Linked DNA regions of Homo sapiens: region 2 is linked to region 1. Evidence: fine-mapped expression QTL. Tissue or cell type: whole blood. Region 1 holds a variant in brackets; the other region holds the start of a gene. All regions are shown on one strand. Distances are between the middles of the regions.

Evidence for each region. PIP is the estimated chance that this variant, and not a neighbour inherited with it, causes the effect.
Region 2: it holds the start of NAP1L4, and the variant in region 1 is fine-mapped to the expression of NAP1L4 in whole blood (INTERVAL, PIP above 0.99).

What each region holds. Positions count from the first base shown.
Region 1 is chr11:2,954,520-2,965,124 of GRCh38, reverse strand. It overlaps NAP1L4 (nucleosome assembly protein 1 like 4), which reads left to right. Exons shown (of 16, transcript NM_005969.4): 8 at 374-445; 9 at 5,216-5,355; 10 at 6,581-6,726; 11 at 9,359-9,381; 12 at 10,479-10,598. SNORA54 (small nucleolar RNA, H/ACA box 54) reads left to right here and starts at 1,232; the gene lies at 1,232-1,354. RefSeq lists enhancers at 1-6, 3,776-4,282. The variant C/T (reference allele first, on the strand shown) is at 4,459.
Region 2 is chr11:2,987,699-2,998,303 of GRCh38, reverse strand. NAP1L4 (nucleosome assembly protein 1 like 4) reads left to right here and starts at 5,975. Exons shown (of 16, transcript NM_005969.4): 1 at 5,975-6,050. RefSeq lists enhancers at 5,711-6,005, 6,550-7,406.

The DNA of each region.
Region 1 (10,605 bases):
GGCTGAGGACCAACAGTCTTGGTTGGTAGCATTTCTGATCTCTGTGTGCAGTGGCAGCTGGTGGCAGGAAAGCAGTGAAGGCCCTTGCCCCAGTATTGCAGGCAGGCGGGTGTCAGTGGCACTGCCCTTTGCTGGCAGTGGCAGCCACCGTTGCTCCACACTAGGGAAAGGGGACACCTTGGTGCTGCTTCTCTATGACAGGGAGTTGGTGAATAAGTCTGGGTTTCTTCCTGGTAGTTATTACTTTGACAAGGACAGAATTCCAATAGGGCTAGTTATGCAACATCTGGGAGCCTCTGCAACCATGACTCTTCGGGAGAGATGTGTTGTTTTTTTAAAAGCCTGTTGGAATTTTTTTTCTCTTTTTGATTAGGAATATGATGAACCAATCTTGAAACACCTGCAGGATATTAAAGTGAAATTTTCTGACCCTGGACAGCCTATGGTGAGTACTGACTTGACCTTCTGGTTGGCATCAGACAGGGTCAGTCCACAAAGATGGAAGAACTTGGAGCCAGGGGCAAGAAACCCACAAAACCCACACCCAGCCACTCATCTGCTGGGCAGCCCTGGGCGAGACTGCTCTCCAAGAGTTAGACTGAGTACCGCATTGTGTGTTTGCTCCCTGAGTTCGATGGGGATCCCATTGCCTTTCTGTGTCATGCTTGGCACTGTAGTCGTGAGTCTGTGCTGGATGATTTGACAGTGATGCAGACCATGTGATGCCCCAGACCCTGCAGCCAGGTGGGCACCAATGCAGGAGTCAGGCTGCAACTCCTGGGCTGTAGTGGTGCTGTCCACTGTGCCAGGCCTTGGTCTTGTAGTTTGTTTGTTTACTCTGTTGGGTGGAGATGATACCATTCTTTTCCCAAGTGTCTCTGAAGTTTGCATGCATCTAATGTATATGTTTAACGTTTAAAAAGATGGGAGCTATGTACACATAATGATCAGCACTTATTCAGAAATCTGAACCTACTAGGTTTTACCCTAAAAAAAAAAGCGCAAATAAGACTGAAAAATGTTTTCCTGCTCTTTGATTTGTCCTGAAACACGTCTTTACAATATGCTTGCCATGGCATATCATTGCATTAGTAATGTTAGTGGCATGGATCAGCCTACCAGTTGGTAAGATAAGCTTGACTAGGTCAGCCCTTACTTTTATCTGAGGAACCATATGCTCATCTTCAAATGGCCTTGCCAGACTGTCTCATCCCAGCCTGGTTCTCCCAGGGAGCACTGTTCGTAACCCGTTAGCCTGGCTGTAGCTAATGGGTTCCATTCCGGTGCAATAGCATTTCCAGCGACACATGACTGACTGACTGGTGGCTTTCAGTTTCAGGTCTTGGAGACAAATGCTGCATGACGGGCTGTGGGTTAGGGATCTTGGGTGTGGGTGATGGTGGTAGGGGCCTGGGGCCAGTCACCAGTATCTTCCTTCCTCCCCATCTCAGCACTGGGGCCTGGGCTAATGGATGAGGGCCACTAGGAGTGGGATTTCTTCACTGCAAGTGCTGCAAGTAATGCCTGGGGCAGCAGCAGGGGTGGGCAGTGGATGTACCTGTATCTGTCTCTTCTACTTTTTCCTGTCTGTTTTCCACTATGGAAGGTGACATTCAGGTGTCCCTCTCTAGGTGGGGCCCTGGGAGCTGGGAGTGATGCCTGCTCACCAGCTGGGGGCTGCCCTCCAGAGGGGATACCCCATCTTCCTTGCCCCATGTGGGTTATAGCAGGTCCTTCTTCCTGGGCTTGCATCACTTCTGTTTAGACTTTATCACAGGGCCCCCAGGAGCCGCCTGGGCACGTCTGCCTAGTTTGCCCTCGTTGGTGTGCATTCTCTTCCCCATGGTGTGAGCGTGCGGTGCTTTAAGTTTCTGTGCGTTTTTTCTTTGTACTTCTTTCTTACCTGTGATTCATCCAGACGCAATTAACTTTTTTTCCCTTTTGGGTCAGTTCCTTTTTTTTTCCTTTCTTTTTTCTCCTTTTCTTTTCTTCCTTTTTTTTCTTTTTTCTTTTTTTTTTTTTTTTTGAGACCGAGTCTCACTGTGTCACCAGGCTGGAGTGCAGTGATATGATCTCGGCTCACTGCAACCTCTGCCTCCTGGATTCAAGCGATTCTCCTGCCTCAGCCTCCCGAGTAGCTGGGACTACAGGCACGCACCACCACGCCCAGCTAATTTTTGTATTTTTAGTAGAGACGTGGTTTCACCATGTTGGCCAGGATGGTCTCAATCTCTTGACCTCGTGATCCACCCGCCTCAGCCTTCCAAAGTGCTGGGATTACAGGCATGAGCCACCACACCCGGCCTCTTTTTTTCTTATTGGACACCTGTTTGATGATTTCCTAGGTCAATTTTCTTTCTTTCTTAGCCTGTCATCTTATTTTTCTCCATCTCATTGTGACTCATAGACTAGAGCTCTGGTTATGGTAGACTGTGGACCAGTAATTTTTTTTTTTCTTTTTACTTCCCTATTATAAAAGTCATATGTAGAAAATACAGGCAAGTGTAAAGAACACTATACAAATCTGTCTTCTAAAAGTAAATCTCAGCAGCTTAGTGAATTTCCCCATACTCTTTTTCCTTTGTAAAATTATTATGAAGCGTCTAATGCATTTTAAGTTATAAAGATAAATGAAACTTCAAAATGAGTCTTGACTGGTGTTTTTGCAGCATGCCTCATTCCCTTCCCTTGAGCGCTTGCCTACCTGGATACACAGTGCACACGTGTGCCACACGGCTCCTGCCACACCACATGGTGTGTGCACAGTGTCACCCTGCTGCCACATCACACAGGCTTGGCTGGGGGAATAGTTGTTACTGCAGCCATTGGCTATAAAACAGTTTAACATTCCCCTACATGCCCCACCTCCCCCATTGTAAATTGTTGCATTATGATCAGCATACTTGAACCCAAATTTGTGTTAAATTAAATGTTTGATGGTTTCCTTAGTTTAGGTTCCTTTCAGTGTACTTACCAGTCAAAGAAGATGAAGCTTTAGAAGGCCCAAAGGTCGTTCAGTTGGGATTACAGACATGAGCCACTCAGGCCCTGCCTAATTTTGCATTTCTTTAGTTGCTTGTAAGATTGAGCATGGTTAGCATATTTATGGCTTACCTGGCTGTAGTGCGTGTGTGAATGAAGCAGTCTTATTTTCAAGCCACTTTTCATTTGGGCAGCTAAACAGTTTCTTGAATCATCTTCAGTTGTCTTTGGGTTACTCTTGACTGAACAAAGGCAGAGGGGAGAGAAAAAAGGAAAATAGGAAGAAACATGAATCTATCTATAGAAAAGTAGGCTGGGTGTGGTAGCTCATGCCTGTAATCCCAGCACTTTAGGAGGCCAAGGTGGGAGGATTGCTTGACCCCAGGAGTTCAAGACCAGCCTGGGCAACATAGGGAGAACTGGTCTTTAAAAGAGAAAGTAAAAAGGAGGGGAAAAAATGAGTAGGACATGGTGAAGGACCACAAGTCTAATAGTACTATTTGTTTTATTGGGGCCACCCCATGCCCTGGGTTGGTTGTCCACACTGTGGTCACAGCCTTAAACAGTTCTGGAATCATAGCAGTCTCTCCATTGGTTGGCTACTTGTCTTCCCTCTTTATGTTGGTTTTTTTTTTTTTTTTAAGCCGTGGAGGGTTGGGAGAGAAATAGGCATTTTATTTGATGCTGATTCCCTGTAGCTGCCTCTTCCTTTCCTTGTGATTTTTGCCAGGCAGGTGACTGGCCTTTCGTTTGTGTGGTTCATCTGCAGTGCCCTACCCGCTTCCTTTGCTCTTGCCAAGGCCAGTGGAGAGCTCCTAGCCAGATCCTGCTGTCATCCCTTCTAGAAACCGACTAGACTGTCTCCCTGATCCTGACTTCCTAAGCCCTCATGCCCCGCCTCCTCCTCCACCTTTCTTTGAAAGTTGTTTTTTCACTTCTCCTTTGTGCAAGTGGTTTGTTTGAATGTATAAACTTTTTTTGCTGTATATTTTTTTTAGTCCTCTTAATTTCCCCCCCGTTGATGGTTTTACCATTACAATGAAAATGGAAACAGCTGACATTTAGCCAGCCTTGCCTATAAACGCGGCTCTAAGTGATACAGATTAACCACCAAGGCAGCTCCTAGAGAGGGAGAGAGTTATTTCCAGTGTAGAGATGAGGAAACTAAAGCACGGAGACATTGAGTAGCTTCCGCGAGTTGCCTAGCAGTGTAGGCAGAGATGGGATTTGAATCCAGGCTGTCTGAGCGTAGAACTGGTCTTGTAAACTGTCTATAAATTACTCAACCAAGCGCATCTTCCATGTTTTTCTTCTATAAATAGGGATGAGGTCAATGTCTTTGCACATATCGATGCATCCATCCAGGTATTTTTCTCAAATAGAACAAATTCCTCAAAATAGAATTACTGAGTCAGGGAATATGCCTTTTAATTTAATTTTTTTTGATATTGCCAAATTGTCCTTCATAAAATCTGT[C/T]GACAGTACATGAGTGTGCTCAGTACCCCAAAATCCTGGCCGGGTCTACATATTTTTGTACATTTTGCCCCAAAGAAAGGCATCTCATTTTGGTGTTCATGTGTTTTGTTACTCGTGAGCATGAATGCCTTGTTGCTGCTGTTGGTTGTTCTATGCCTGCGTTCATGTTTGCATCCTTTTTCCCGGTGTGCTCACGTCTCTTCCAGGTCTGTAGCGTGCTTTGTAAGTGAGGGATGAGCTTTCTGTCCTTGTAGAGATTTGTCCTTTTCTCCCACCCACCTCCCGGGAGAAAAGCTGTGGGTCACTGCTTTCACTGCACAGCACAGAGTAGAGACCCTGGCTTCCCCCAGCAGGGTGGGGGCTGGGGCTTAGGCTGAGCGGAAAAGGACAGGAGGAGGATGGACTGCTGGTCCCCTTACTTTCCCCTAGTCACCTTCCCTCCTTCCAGGAAGCAAGGGCTGGGAGCAGCTAAGAGAAGCTAGGATTTCTTAGGAGAGCTTGACGCCTATTGGTGAGGAGGCATTGGAGGGGGAACATGCCCCTTACTCATGAACTGAACAGATATTTCCCGCCAGTCCATCGTTGGTTTTTTTAACCTCACGCTAGTCTTTTTTGCGGTGGAGAAGTTTTTCTTGTTCATGGCCCTATCTGTTGAGCTTTCCCAAAATAGCTTCTAGTAAGTGTTGTGTACTCCAAGCAATCTGTCCTCGTTATTTTTCTATTTTAACTGGTGCTTACTCTGAATTTCTACTTTTAGTCTTTTGTGTTAGAGTTCCACTTTGAACCCAACGACTACTTTACCAACTCAGTCCTGACAAAAACCTACAAGATGAAATCAGAACCAGATAAGGCTGATCCCTTTTCCTTTGAAGGTCCTGAGATTGTGGACTGTGACGGGTAAGAAAATGTCATTCTACCTTGTTTTTCTGAAACAAAATCAAAAGATAATTTTGTAACTTGATGGGTAAGATAGAAGTAAGGAATAAAGTACAGTCTTGAGTCTGCTTAAAAGCCTAAAAGCCTGGTAGATGTATATTTCAATAGTCTTTCAGTTTGGGAATGCTCATAGTGCAGAACTTGGAGATGGCGGCTGAACCTGGGAAATGAGTCACGTGGTTGCACATGCAAGCCTTTGGGATAGTGCCCTGTTTCTTCATTTTAATGAAAGTAGTGGATTCTCTAGACATCGTGAATTGAAGTTCTTAAAATTGAATCCATGGATTACCCTCAGCAAATAAATACTTATTGAATGAATGAGTCTGAGTCCAGGGCTATATTGATCAGCTGATTGCTTTGGAAATAGGTGGGGGCAGCATAGCTGTTGTTTGACTCACTGATTTCAGTCTTTATAAATCACTAAAGAGAGAATTTGGTTTAGAATTAATTTCTCCAGGTTGGGTTGACTGAGAAATGGTTTTAGTCTTGACTTGAAACAATTACGTTTATTTACCAGAAGTAAATAGTAATTGTTAATTCAGGACTTTATTAAAATCCTGCTAGAGTAATTTAGAAAGATGATTTTCCAGGGCCAGGACATCATGTGAGAAAAAGGCCTGGCCTTACCAAGCATGTTCTTAAGCGGGCAGTATTGAGATCTGCCAGGTGTTGCCTGGGTCTGTGGTGATTGTGTGTTAGAGAGAGCGTGCTGTGCTCAGCCCTCGCCAGCATCCCTGGGGCTGGAGTGGTCTGCACTGGCCATCAGTATTCCCGGTGGCCACCTCTTTCCTTTTTTCAGCTTGTCGTGCTCAGTTGGCTGCTTTGAACAGCAGCAACTCCTCCTTCCTTGGGAAACCGCGGACAAGTTCTTGTGCATCATGCAGACTTGACGGGGCTTTGCCACAGAATATACATTTCAGAGTCCTGATGAAATGTCTTGGGAAAATAATACCATTGTTCCAGAAGTCTGAAGTTCCAGTGGTCACACCCAAGTTGAAAGAGGACCAGGCTGTTTCTCTTTTTGCCAACCTCCAGATGAACTTCATGGGCCATTGTATTTGGTTTGCAGATTGGTTTTATTTCGTTTTCCAGGTTTGGCATAGAGCTGTGGTTTGCTTCCTGCATGCATTTGTAATGGATTTTTCTCATGGATTGTGTGTTCCTGACAGCTGTCTTGTCCTGGTAGGTGTACTATTGACTGGAAGAAAGGAAAGAATGTTACTGTCAAAACCATCAAGAAAAAGCAGAAGCATAAGGGTCGAGGCACTGTTAGAACAATTACGAAACAAGTACCCAATGAGTCCTTTTTCAACTTCTTCAATCCATTGAAAGGCAAGTCTGTTGGTTGTTAATATTCATTATGTTCTTATATAAAATAATTTTGGTCACCTGATAGATTCCTAACACCCAGAGACTTTAGTCCTCTTTTTTCAGGCAAGTGTGGTCAGTAGGGGCACATTGCTGTGTCCCAGGCTGTTCTGTTGGTGCGCTGGCAAGTTTATCGCGGGGGGCAGAGGTAGCTAGGACAGTAAGAGTAGGATTGTCATCTTCTGCAGGAAAGGGAAGAGCTTTACTCTGCTTGGCTGTAGCCCAGGCAAAAACTTGCAGTTCTGTTTTAAGAAAACTGAATCGAGTATTTGCACCTGGGCTGCTTCCTCACTTGGACACCTGGAGCACCCTTCTCCACCAGCTGGCATTTCTGCCCCGCTGTTGTGTCTGGTTCGCACCCCCCGGGGACCACTCCCAGCCTCGGAGAGCTGCTGGGTTTGCTCTGCAGGTACCCGTTACTGCTGTACGCTGGTTCTAGTTGTGCTGCTTTTGGATCATCTGCTTAGTCCCCCTTTTCTTGTAATTTTTTATGCATAATTTGATAGAATTTTTTGGAATTTATATATTGTAAGAAACACAAGTAGTTGGGACTTTCATTTTTGAAAAACATCGGCAGAATCACAGCTTGGAAGCTGCTTCTTTTTGTTTATTTATTTATTTTTTAAATTTTCCTAAGTGGTAAAATAAAGATGAGACCTTTGAGCTAGTAAAGGTTGACCAATTGATTTTAAGAGTAAATTTCTTGGGATTTTTCATATAATTTCCTAATCGCGAGAAAATGTGAAGGTCAAGCAACTTGTCAGTGTTAAAATATCCATATTCTCTTTAGTTTCCATGAACTAAAACATAATTTGAAGTGAAGAGATGCCAGCCCCTGCTGCAGATAATCAGTGAGTGTTTGTTTGTATGTGGGGCCACAGGGCGGATCTCTTCTCCAGTCTGAGTGATTGATTTTTTGATTTTGTCTCTGAGCTTAGCACCCTTATTTATCAAGCTGCCCTTCAGAGTTCAGTCCATTATTTTAATTGTGGTGCCTATTTTCTGCAATTAGACTTTGAACCTAGAAGATGCAAATACATACGGTTTGGGGAATGAGAGCAGTCATAAATTTAGATATTACATTTCCTTTTTTTGGAAGATTCCTTTTAGACACTTGGGTTGGGCATACTGGAGATTGTCTGTGAATTCAGCGTGAAGAAGGGAGGCTTTAATTTCTGGAATCACTTTGTGTAGGAAGTTCTCTTAAAACTGATTTAAAAATAATTTTTAGGATAAAAATGGAGTTGATAATGGACTCAAGGGAATTTTTAAGTGTTTTTTTTTTTAGATTCTAAAACTTTTAGGGTATGATGGTTGCACAACTCTAAAATTAACGTACTGAAAGTCATAAAGTTGTACATTTAGAGTGTATGCCTTTTAATGGTATGTAAATCCCATCAGTAAAGCCACTTTTAAAGTAATCAAACACATAATACCAAATGGTAAGTGCTTTGAAAAAAATTGAGGATGGCTGCGGAATAGGTAATGGGGTAGTGAAGGAACAGACAAAATGGACTCCTGTGGTGTGAAGTGAAGGAGGCATTAGCTAGTGAGTCCAGCTCCTTTGTCCTTAAAACTGCAAAGCCAGTCCAGAAGTATGAGTGTTCAGAGTCCTTGTACTATTCATGACTTGGGCCAGAGTGCCCTGGGGAGCATGCTGCTCCAGCATTTAGACACCCAGCCATGCTCCTAACCCATGTCTAAAACCCCTGGGTGATGCTGGCACACCGAGGCTTGGGAACTCTGCCTCACTCATGGGTGGTGTTTACGCACCCAACATTCATGTCTCAGCAGCAAACAGCAAGTGCTGCCAGGGTTGTGGTCGCTTAATGGGAAGGGAGACTCAGAGAGGAGAGCCCAGTGAAGATTGAAAAGGCAGGTATGAGACTAAGCAGAGTAAACATTCAACTCCTGATGAAGCTCAGGGTCTTGTAGTAAATGTTTCTAAAATCAGGGGGTTGGATCTTCTACCAGTTGAACGTTGCACAGCTTCATTGAGTGTGGTTAGAAGTCCCTATCTGTCTTGGTGGGCTTAGCTCGTCTGAGCATCAGCTTTCGCTGAGGAATTGCGCCACTCTACAGGGGCCCCTGGTGGGCATTCCAGCACTCTCCAAACAAACAGAAATGCAGTTTCTGTCTCGCTGATTTGCAGTGCCTTAGTAACACTCACAGCTTATAAGGCTTAAGGACTTTCTCTTTCCTGCACCATCATGTATAGTTCTGCGGGACATGAGTTAAGTTTCCCCATAAAGCACAAATGCACTGAATGGCCACAGCCTGGGGGCTGTTTGCCATTCCTCCTGTTAATATATTAACTCTCTCAAAATGATCTTCTCAAGCTTGAGTGCCAGCCCATGGCACATGATGGAGGAGGAGAAGGGAGGGGGGCATAGAGGCACTCAGGCCAGCTTCAGAAGTGGTGGATGGAGCTTGCAAAGATGTCTGTGAGGAGATGCAAGGCTTTGGGGATTTCTGTTAAACCTCGAGGTGAGAAATGTTACATTTTATCTACCAGCACAGCTTCCTCCTGTGTGGGCTTTAAAATTCTGGGAGTTGTCACTGTAATTTAAATATGTTTTGTCTTTTCTTTTTCTAGCATCCGGGGATGGAGAATCACTGGTAAGATTTGTTGTTAATAGTCTTATTTTCCTGTTGAAGTCTCTCCTGAGTGAATGTCTACTTGTCTACTTGTTAAAAAAAGTCCAGTCCTGGCTGTGTGTGGACTGGGTATGCCAGTGATCTTAATGCTTTGGGAGGCTGAGGTGGGAGGACTGCACGAGTCCAGGAGTTTGAGACCAGCCTGGGCAACATAGCACAACCCCATCTCCACAAAAAATTAAAACCAAATAAATTAGCCAGCCGAACATGGTGGTTCACGCCCGTAATACCAGCACTGTGGGAGGCCAAGGTGGGTGGATCACCAGAGGTCAGGAGTTCAAGACCAGTCTGGTCAACATGGTGAAACCCCGTTTCTGCTTAAAATACCAAAAAAAAAAAAAATTAGTTGGACACGGTGGCAGCGCCTGTAATCTCAGCTACTCAGGAGGCTCAAGCAGGAGAATCACTTGAACCCGAGAGGAGGAGGTTGCAGTGAGCTGAGATTGCACCACCGTATTCCATTGGGCGACAGAGCAAGACTCCGTCTCAAAAGATAAAATAATAAATTAGCTGGACATGGTGGTGCACTGTGTAGTTCCAGGGTCGCTGGGGCCCAGGAGCTTGAGGCTGGAGTGAGCTGTGATTGCACCACTGCCCTCCAACCTGGGTGATAGAATAAGACCCTGTCTCTTAAAAAAAAAAAATCCATTTCTGTTTCCTAAAACTCTGGGATTAATTTGAAATCATTACACATCTAAGTAAAAGTATGTGTTTCATATGTTGATTTCAGTAGCAAATGTGCAGTGCTTTAATACTGCCTGTTTCCCATATGTGAGACTGATACCGCCTACTCTGGGTGAGACCTTTGGACAAGTTGTGGAGCTGTAGGGCCCTCACTTCCCACTTTCTCTGCCATTTTGCTTCAGTAGCTCTTTAAAGCTACTTAAAGTTGTTTTAAAGGGGCTTTGAGTGTCTAGTGGCTGTCCCCCAGCAGTGCAGGAGTTTGGTGTTTTAAGTTAAGTAAATCAAAAGTGAGGGGCTGAGGTTTGGCTGAGGGTGGTGAAGTGAATGTTTTTATCCCATTAAAATGAGTTAACACGTAGGTTTTTCCTCCTCAGGATGAAGATTCTGAATTCACATTAGCCTCTGATTTTGAAATTGGACACTTTTTCCGTGAGCGGATAGTCCCGCGGGCTGTGCTGTACTTCACTGGGGAGGCCATAGAAGATGATGACAATGTATGAG
Region 2 (10,605 bases), 33 kb before region 1:
CACATTGTACCAATGTCAGTCTCCTGTGTTGATCTTGAACTCTGGCCAGGCAAGGTGTGACCATCAGGAAACAAACTGTGCAGTTTTCTGGAAACCTATAATTACTTTAAGGCTTCAGGAGCTCCTACTGGCTAAGTTTGGGACAATTTGAGCATTGAAAAGAATGATTCCAGCCAGGGCAACATAGCGAGACCCTGTCTCTACTAAAAGTCAAAAAAATTAGCCGGTGTAGTGGCGCACTTGTGATCCCAGCTACTCAGGAGGCTGAGGTTGGAGGATTGCCTGAGCATGGGAGGTGGAGGCTGCAAGTGAGCTGCGATCATACCACTGCACTCCAGTCTGGATGGCAGAGCAAGACTCTGTCTCAAAACAAAAAACAAAAACAAACAAACAAAAAAAAAACTCCAGGCATCTGTATTTATTCTCAAAACTAGAGAAAGCTAAAACATATTGTCGTTACTGGAGGTGGCCTGTGTCAGCTCCTTTCTGTAGAGTTACTCATTAGTGACAGAAGCAAGTATTTTACCTTGCATGGGAAGTATATTTCAGGGCCACCAAATGGCCCTAGCTGAAAGGGGAAAGTTGTTCTTTCCCCCAAAGATGCCAGCTAAGGGAAGAAGCACCAGGATCAGACATCTCCATTCTGCAACCCCGAATGAAGTCATTGATTCAGGCAGGGGCTGACCGCGGATGCTGAGACCCCTGGATGAAAGCTGGTAGGTGCTGGATAATTTGATGCCAAAGTGTCACCTTGTGAGTAACTTGTAGGTTTCCAGGAGGGGATACGTGTTACTTTCTGATGTTGGGCCCTGGCTGTCAGCCCCCCAACAAAAAGAAGGATTTCCTCTAAAAGTATAAGTCAGTATTGAATGCAGCTTTTAGGCTAGGGCTCCTTAACCTTGAATGTGCGTATAAACTGCCCAGGGTTGCTTGTTAACACAAATTTCAGTTCAGGTCTAGGAGGAGCCCAAGATTCTGCATTCCTGCAGTCTCCCAGCTGTGGCCTGTGCTGCCGGGCTACAGCCCCCTCAGGAGCAAGGCTGTCCAGCTCACTTCCTGTCTGCAGGAAATACTGGGAACAGAGGGAGAATGCAGGTGAGGCCATGAAGCAGCCACCACATTTGTGCAGAAGGTGGGGCATTCTGCCAGATGCCCGGCTGGCATCTTCAATACGTCTGCGTCAAAGGGAGCAGAATAGGGCAGAAGAGAAGGACTGGGAGAGACTCGAGAAACAAAACCACCAGGTTTGAGGGATAATCTTTGAAGGATTTGAACAAACCTGCTGTAAAGACATTTCAAAGGGGGTCGGGCACAGTGGCTCATGCCTGTAATCCCAGCACTTTGGGAGGCTGAGGCAGGCGGATCACCTGAGGTGGAGAGTTCAAGACTAGCTTGACCAACATGGAGAAACCCTGTCTCTACTAAAAATACAAAAAAATTAGTTGGGCATGGTGGCACATGCCAGCTACTCCGGAGGCTGAGGCGGGAGAATCGCTCGAACCCGGGAGGTGGAGGTTGCGGTGAGCCGAGATCTCGCCATTGCACTCCAGCCTGGGCAACAAGAGCGAAACTCCGTCTCAAAAAAAAAAAAAAAAAAAAAATTTCAAGAAATTTGAATGACCAGGTATTGGATGACAGTCAAGATTTTTGCTAATTTTGTTAGTGTGATAATGGCGGCTGCATGGAGAGGTGTCTTTAATGAGATACAAAGTAGCCTGAAACCTGTAACTCAGTATCCTTTAGCCAAGGAAACTGATGAAGTGCAGCCGGCACTGCAGCAGCAGCAATCCCTTCCACAGTGTATCCTCTTTACTGGCCTGTGCTGGAAACCATGTATCAAATATCCTGACAACTGGGCCATGAGGAAATACCCTTGTCTTTAGCTGCCACCACTGGGGTGAGCGGAGGTTGGCCCAAAGCCGCGGTGCCATCCAAGGAGGCAAGAAGGAGTGGCGTGTGCCCCATTTCCAGTGGTGGCTGCACAAAAACGTATCCAGATTGCCAGGGGCACGCCTGGTCCCCACAGCTGGTGAAGGCCTGGCTCCACCTGGACTGCAGTAGGGCCAGGCTGTGGCCCCTGTTTCACGCCCCCCAATTCAGAGTGATTCTGGGCCGCTTTTCTGCCTGGAGTTTCCCCGTTCTGAGGGCCCACTGCCCGGTGCGCCTTCTCTCTGCCCTTCCCTGACTTCCTCCAGTCTCCCCAGGCTGGGTCCGAGGGCCTGCAGTGACAATAGGCTGGCTGGGCCCAGGCCATTGGCTTGGCCCCCAAGAGGACCCCAGCACCTCCCTACCCTGCAATCTCTTGCTGTCAGGCTGCAGCAGATCCTTCTGGAACAACGTGGGGTGGACACTTTTCTTGTATAATATTAGTTTGCCTGTGGAAAGTGTTTCTTTTCTGTACATGAAAGCTCTGTTCAGCTGTAAGAGCCAGATTTACATCTTCCTGTTTTTCCCCAAAGAGCAATCTTTGGTGTCTTTACTATAAAAACGTCATGTATTCATTATTTAAAAATAAATAATACGGAAAACTTCCAATATAAAGTAGAAACTGAAAGACCCCGTGCCCTACCTCTCAAATCCCTACAACATTTGGGGTACAGTCTTCCAGATGCCTTCTTTCTGAGGCCGGGAAGCTTGCAAAGGCACTCCCTGTCTGCGCACCCCTCTTGTGTGGAGTACGCCATGGGTGTTTTCTGTTCTCCATATACCAGGAGAAACCAGCCACCTCTCTTGGATGTCTCCAGGGCCCCACTTTGTTAATGCCCCACAGGCTGAGCCCCCAGCCTACTGAGGGGGCTTTGGGCATTTCTGAGGCCTCGGCTCCAGCTCTTGGCGGCTGCGAGGTCTTTTGAGGAGTAGCGCCCCCACCACAGGTGAAGGGCATGGCCGCCCCCTCCAGGGCCAGAGCCACTTAGCTGGGGGCGTTAGAGGGGTTTCTCTGTTTTCTCCTCTGTTGAATGGGGCAGTGATTGCTGCCTCTACTTCCAGGCCAAGGTGTAGCCATTGTCAGTAGCGCCCAGGTAAGGGCACAGCTCGCCAAGTGCCAGGCACTTTTCCGGGTGCTGGCAATGTGAAGAAGAAACACGTGGTGTCTGTCCGGGACTGTCTCCCGGAGCCTCAGTGAGGACAAGGCAGCCAAGAGCAGAACTACAGGCAAGGTAGCCTCTGGAGGGGACTCTTGATCTCCAGGTTGGAGGAGGCTGAGGCAGCAGAGGGGTTGTAGACAGGTGGGCTCATGCCTGAGGCCTGGCAGAGGCAGCGCTGGGAAAACAGGAATGAAACTCACCAAGCGCCAGCTACCCTGGGAGTCCTGATCCCAGTGGCCCTCAGCTCTGGCTGCATGTCAGTGTCATCTGGGGACTTCTTTGTTTTGACACAGGGTCTTGGTCTTGCTCTGTCACCCAGGCTGGAGTGCAGTGGCATGATCACAGCTCACTGCAGCCTCTAAATCCCAGGCACAAGTGATCCTCCCACCTCAGCCTCTCAAGCAGCTGGGACTATAGATGCACCACCATGCCTAGCTAATTTTTAGATATTTGGTAGAGATGGGATCTCATCATGTTGCCCAGGCTGGTCTCGAACTCTTGGGCTCAAGCAATCTGCCCACTCGACCTCATTACCTAATTGCATCTGTGAAGACTCTATTTCCAAATGAGAATCTTCCAAGGAGAGAAACCACCAACCACCAAGAGAAAAACACCACCACCACAATCATTCCAGTTCCAGCAGATCTCCCAGGGAGCAGGTCCAGCTGCCCCCAGCCCCAAGGCCCAGCTCCCTCAGAGGATCCACCCACCCGGATGCCACCCCCACCAACCCCAACATCCAGGAGCAGGGGGATCCCATTACTGCAAATGGTCTTGAGACTTTATTAGATGGGAGGAAGGACCCTCCAAACTTCAAATGCCCAGGTTCTTGTGTCATTTCTATCATTGTTTATGCTTCCGCAAAGCATAAAGCATGACCTTTGTAGAAAAGTCTGAAAGTCTAAATAAGTAAAATAGGAATTGAGAGCACACACACCCTCTCCTAAAACACAGATGGCCAGACAGGACTGAGCACGCTGTGTGGGTCAGGCCTCAGCCATGCACCGGTCACCTCTGAGGGGTTTTTATGTTTTTTGTTTTAATTAGTTTTTTTTTTATTTTTTATTTTTTGAGATGGAGTCTCGCTCTGTCGCCCAGGCTGGAGTGCAGTGGTGCGATCTCGGCTCACACTGTAAGCTCCGCCTCCCGGGTTCACGCCATTCTCCTGCCTCAGCCTCCCGAGTAGCTGGGACTAGGGCGTCCGCCACAATGCACGGCTAATTTTTTTGTATTTTTAGTAGAGACGGGGTTTCACCGTGTTAGCCAGGATGGTCTCGATCTCCTGACATCGTGATCGGCCCACCTCGGCCTCCCAAAGTGCTGGGATTACAGGCTTGAGCCACCGCGCCCGGCCTTTTTTTTGTCTTTTTGAGACAATGTCCCCCTCTGGTTACCCAGGCTGGAGTGCAGTGGCCCAATCTCTGCTCACTGCAGCCTTGACCTCACGGGCTCAGGTAATTCTCCCACCTCAGCCTCCCAAGTAGCTGGTATTACAGGCCTGAGCCACCACGCCTGGGTAATTTTTTGTTGTTGTTGTTTTTGGAGCAGGGGAAGGGTGCTCTATGTTGCCCAGGCTGGACTTGTTGCCTCTGCCTCCCAGAGTGCTGGGTTTACAGGCCTGAGCCACGGCGCTCCGCATTAATTTCTTTTTAGAGATGAGGTTTCACTATGTTGCCCAGGCTGGACTTGAATTTCTGGGCTCAAGGAATCCTCCTGCCTCAGCCTCCCAGCTTACCTCTGAGGTTTATAACCGACGCTATGTTCTTAATCCCTCAACCAGGAGCCTTTAAATGGTTTCAAATTTTCCCCATTACAGGAATAACTTGCTAATAATAATAATAATTAGCAATTGTTTCAAAAGTAACGTCATCCCAAAAGAGAACGTTTCTGAAAAAAATGCACATTAGACTTGAAGACCCCCAATGGCACGGTTGAACATGGAAATGAACCAGCCTCAAAAGTCCCAGCGTAGGGGTTATTTTCCAATCAAATTGGATGCCTTTCTACAAAATGTGATGTGCACAGGCTGGGGCTGGTACCTTCACCCCAGCCCAGAGGGCACCATGAGAGGGAGAACAGGGCGGGCGAAACAGGCCAGCTCCTCCCCAGCCCTCTGCCCTGCTCTGCTTCAGGGGGCTGATCTGAGGGCCCAGTGCGCACTGCTTTTCCTCCTTGTCCGACAGGGTCTCCCGCAGGCCAGAACTAGGCTGCTGGGACACTGCGGGGCTCAGGGCGTGGGGGAAGAGATGCAGGCAGTGGCTAGTCCCGTCCTGTCCGCGGAGGTGACCCAGCCCCGACCTCTTCGCAGAGGAAGTGTTCTCCAACCTGGGACCTGGGGGATGAGCGGGGGTTAGGCTTACGTCCCAACCACTAACGGGGCTGGTTGAAAACGGCTCCCAGGCGGAGGGGCCCTCCGCGATGTTCTCAAGGAGTAGCGCGAGGGGACGACATGGGAGGTGGGGTTCTCACATCAGCGGGCGCACGGAGTGCTGGAGGCACCGACCCGCCGCGGACGGGATTGAACTAGGGAACTGGGAGGGCGCAGGAGATAAAGACGGCTGGGGCCGGGGCCCACGGAGAGGGGTGGTGCCCAGTGTCCCGCGAGGATGTGGTGCCACCCGGGGAAGGTCCCGGGAGCGGGGACCCGGGACCCCCCGGAACCACACACGCGGTCTCCACCTTGCCCCGCCCCATTTAAAGAGGCGGAGGAACGCAGGGCGCGCGCCGCGCGGAGGAATATTTGCATATGGCGCGGCGTTTCTTCGGAGGCTTGTGATTGGTTGCTGACTGCGGCGCGAAGCGCAGTTGACTTGCGCCGCGCTCGGCGAATCGCAGCCTGTCTTGCTCGCGGAGAGAGGAGCTAGGAGCCTCGGCCAATGGGAGCCGGCGTTGTTGGAGGCCACGGCGGCGCAGCCCCAAAGCGAGCGAAGCTAGGGTCGCCGCCACTGCCGCAGGAGGCGTGAGGTGCGGAGACACGGGTGCTGGGCCGGTAACGGCGCGCTGGGGAGGGCGGCCGGGCCCGGACGGGCGGGTGGGGCCGCGGGTCCGGCGCGGGCGCGGCGGCGGCCATCTCTGGAAGCCTCGGGGCGGTGGGGCAGGGGCGGGGCCGCGTTCTGGTCGGGGCAGGCAGCGGCGGCCGCGGCGGGGCCTGGGGCTTGGGGCCTGGAGCCCGGGCCTGGGGCGCTGGCGGGAGGCCCCTCCCAACTCCCGGCGCGCCTCGCCCGGCTGCCCGCCTCACTGAAGGTCAAGGCGCTTTGTTCTGCGCCGCGGGCGGCCTCCTGGGCGGCGGCCCCTTGGAGGAGGCGAAGACGGCGAGAGGCGGCGGCCGCTCAAATCTCCCGCTAGCCCAGCCCGCCCCGCGTGCGGGGGCTGTGGCGGTTACACGGCCGGGCGCGCCGGAGCGTTCAGGCTTCCCGTTTTTAAGGTGGAGACGTCCAGGACTTCTTTATTAGATGTTTAGGAATTTGAGTTTTTCCGTAGGGCGGTTGTCATCGTGAGCCTCTGTGGGGTCAGGCTGGGCTAACTGGGGTTTTGATGTCAGTTTGGTGTGGCCGAGGGCATGTCTGACGGGGAAGAAAGTCCTTGGCGTTGCTTCTTAGCTGTTGGGAGCTGTGCGGTGGGAGCGAGCTGGGCGGCGTGCGCTCCCCGAGGACTGGCCTGAGTGGCCTTAGACTAGTTACTCACGGGACTTGGTTTCCCAGCCAAGGTGGGCAGCAAGTCTGTTTACTATTTAAAACCGTCTTTCACAAGGGAAAAGCAAAATCTCCAAAAAAAAAAATTGTACATGTTATGGATGGGAAAGTGCCATGCTTTTCTTTCAGTTCAGAGATGGTGGAAGAGGTCACATTTGTATTTTTTGACCTGACCAGAGTCTTTGTTGTTTTCAATTTTCCCCTTCTGAATGCTTTCCGTTCACCCCAGCGAAGGATGGCCTGGTCATGATAAGACTTTCCACCGTCCACAGTTCTCTAAGTCTGATTGCGGGGCAGGAGGCAGACATGTTTAGGGTCCAGTAAAGGGGACTCCAGCCTTGGGACCTTTAGACCCTAACGTGTGTGTCACATCACCTGCCTGGGTGACTGTGCGCTCCTCTGGCAGGAAGGTCCGCCATTTCATTATGTTCTCGGAGGAATCGTCGGGGCACATTCGTCTGTGCTTTGGTTCGCATCCCCCAGTCTGCATTACTTTTTCCTGTAGTAACCCGTGCCTTATCCTCCTGCATTAGGTTTACGGGGTGAAAATAGACTTTTAAAAATTCTCTTACCTTAGAAATATACAAATATGTAGATTAGGTTGTTGGACCTTAAAGGTAAGTCTTTCTAAGTTACTACCTTCCTGTAATAGTAACTATACCTCTAAATGACTAATACCTGCACTGCGCACCAGGGACTCTTTCAGCCTGTTTGCGTGTGTTAACTCATTTCATAATCTAATAACCTGAGATAGATGCTATTGTTTTTCCATTTAACTACTCTGGAAGCTGAGGCCCTGGGAGGTTAGGTATAATGACTTGTCCGAGGTGACAAAGCTTAAAGACCCAGGCAGTTTTAACTGTACCCAGGGTTACTGCTTCTGTAGAGGGAATGAAAGAAGTTTTAATGAGAAATTGTTTTCATCATTGTGCTAAGCTTAACTGAACTCTAGCTTACGAGGTTTTGAGCTGGTTGATCATTTCCATCTCAAAATTCTCTTATTCCACAGAATGCCAAATGCCTCCTATAGTAGAATTTTGAGATTCAGACTGGGATGAGCAATTGCTAATGGAATAAATAATATGCAAATGTAAAATGAAGTTCAGAGAAAGCAACGTGGTGATAGAATGGGAAAGTAATCCAAAGATAAAATGAGTGACTACAGAGAGAGAGAAAATTAGTTATTTAGTAGTAGTTCACAAGTTTACTTAGAGATATTTTTACTAGAATTTCAGGGCCTTATGATGTGATTTTTATGAACCATTTTAACACGTTACTGCCGTCTTAAATAGCTGTTATTACATATCCAATTGCAGTCTTTTTTTTTTCCTGGTTGAGCAGTGTTAGCTTCAGAATGTCTGCAGTTATTTGTGCCTATATGTCATATAGGCACATATAACACTTTTGTGAATTTTGTTGTGTAAGCTTTAAATCCGGTACTGTTTTTCAAAATGAATATGGAGTAGTCATTGGAGAAATTGGTTGAATTCTTTGCAGTAGCAAATAAATTTTAATCATTTTTAAGTTTGATAACTTTGGTAAACTGAATTCTGAAAAGTTTACACATGTTTTAGGATGTCCTCAAAATGTACAGGGCATTGTGTTTTGCAAATTAGCCATTTAGCCATCAGATTCTTCTGTAGAATTTTGATCTTTTTGCCCATATGAGAGGTAGTTCTTATTTGTATGGAGGTTAAGTACCTGCGGATGGGATGTGTTCATCACCACTTTACAGTATGAATTTGAATTTGAAACTGAAATGAAAACTTCCTAACCTGTCAGAGTTTTTAGTAGCCTCTTGTTATTGACCGCATGTTAATTCCCTTTGTTAGCTATTCGCAGCTAAGTGTGGGGACTGAAATCTTTATTTTGTTTTCCTTCTTTTGAGCAGTTGATAGTCTCTAGCATCAGGAGGAGGTGACCTCAAATATGTATGTATATATAGTAGTGCTTTTCTTCCTTCCCTTTAGTTGTCTGCAGTTTAAAAATTATTGTGATAAGTTTATGTTGTACTTCCAAAAATGTTGCCAAAGAGCCTATATTTTTCAGTTTGTTTTGGAAGAAAAATACTTTGTGGGCAAGAAGGTGATTTAAATTCCTGACGGCCTAAGAGGCGTCAGCTGTGTGAAATAGGCGAGTGCTGTTACTGCTTGAAACCATGATGGTTTATATTTGAATAAGACAGCAGAGATGAGCTTGTTGGGAGTTTGGCCTGAGATTGCTAGCTAAGGAATGCTTGCTTTTTTGCTTAAAGGGAAAAGTGTTTTAGGCTTCCAGAGTAGAAATCTGATATTACTTCGTTTGATTCTTCGACCACTATGGTGATAGGAAGTAGCTGATCTCTGCAGGAAACTGCTGTTACCTGGCCTCAGCTGAATTTTTGTGGGACCTCCTGAGGTAAGCAAATTTATGCCTCCCGAAACTATAGTTGTAAGGTTTGTCTTTGAGCATATAGTAATGGAAAACCCTTATCAGTAGGTAGATAGTAAATAATTTTGTATTTGGCTGCTAATGAAATTTTTAAGAAATAGTTTGTGGTGATATAAATTAGTTTTCATCTGGCAGTCATTGGTTTTCCACCCTGCCCTCTTAAGAGAGAACAGGGTTGCTTTACTTTGTTTGCCAGAGCTTTACATTTTGCATTTAGTAACAGAGGCATTGTGTTTTTATAGTATGAAAACAACGAAAGATCACTTTGTGATCTTTACTTTTTGATTTTGACCACTTCCTGTGTAACCTTAAGTTTCTTACAAGTATCCCCTGTTAACTGTTAAAAACGAAATGTATGTTCATTTCATGTCCTTGGGACTTTTAAAAATGCGCTGTGCATTATCTGGAAAAGCCTGTTCAAAAACAAGATGAGATAATTTCTGTTTAATTTGTGGTAGAAAGAATGACTGTGCACTTTTATGTGCAAAGGTTTTAAGTATAATAATTAAAATAGTACTTGTTTACTCAGTTACCGAAAAGTAGCTTTCAGTGATTTGCATCTGTTTACTTATTCATGAGCATCTTCTATGTACTGGGCACAGTTCTAGGTACTGGGGCCTCCCGCAGAATAAAACAGAAGTCTTTGTCCTTGTTTCTGCTATGGGAGACAGACGAACAAGTTCAATGGTGGCAGGTGCTTTTGAAAAACAGTGCAGAGGAGTAGGGACTTTGGTGGTTGCAATATGAAATAGGTAGAGAGGGAAGTGCCTTATTGACAAGATGACAAGATCTTTTAATATGTACTGGATTAAGAAGTTAGCCTCATTGAGTCGTATGCTAATGAACTGCCCAGAAAAGAAGGGTGGAGGAGATGGGAGTGCAGCAGTAAAGACTGCTGCGCCCCAAGTAAAATGTAGTGTTTTGGTTAAGGAAAGGAAATCATTTTTTGCTTTCTTCTTGAAACCCCAGGGCTTGGCACCGCAGAAGTCTCTGAAGAGACAGTCTGCTGCTGTTTGGAGGCAGGTATTTCAGTAGATCTTGTAACCAAACATGAATGACTAAGGCAGTGTTTCTCCTCTGTGTCTTCAGAAACTGCTTGAGATGTGTGCATGCAGTCCCGGGCACCATGCGTGCTGGGTACTGGTAACACAGAGACAAGTTGTCATTTGGTAGCAGTGAGTTAAGCAAAGATTTCTTGGCAACCAGTCTCATCCCGAGTCTGTTGCTGGGCCTTGGGACTTCTGTATTGAGCAAGTAGACAGGGTCCCTGCCCTCGTGGAACTTGTTCTTTAGTGGGCAAACATGTATTATTCATTGCTTTTTTTTTTTTTTTTTTTTTGAGGTGGAGTCTCGCTCTGATGCCCAGGCTGGAGTGCAGTGGCGCGATCTCGGCTCAC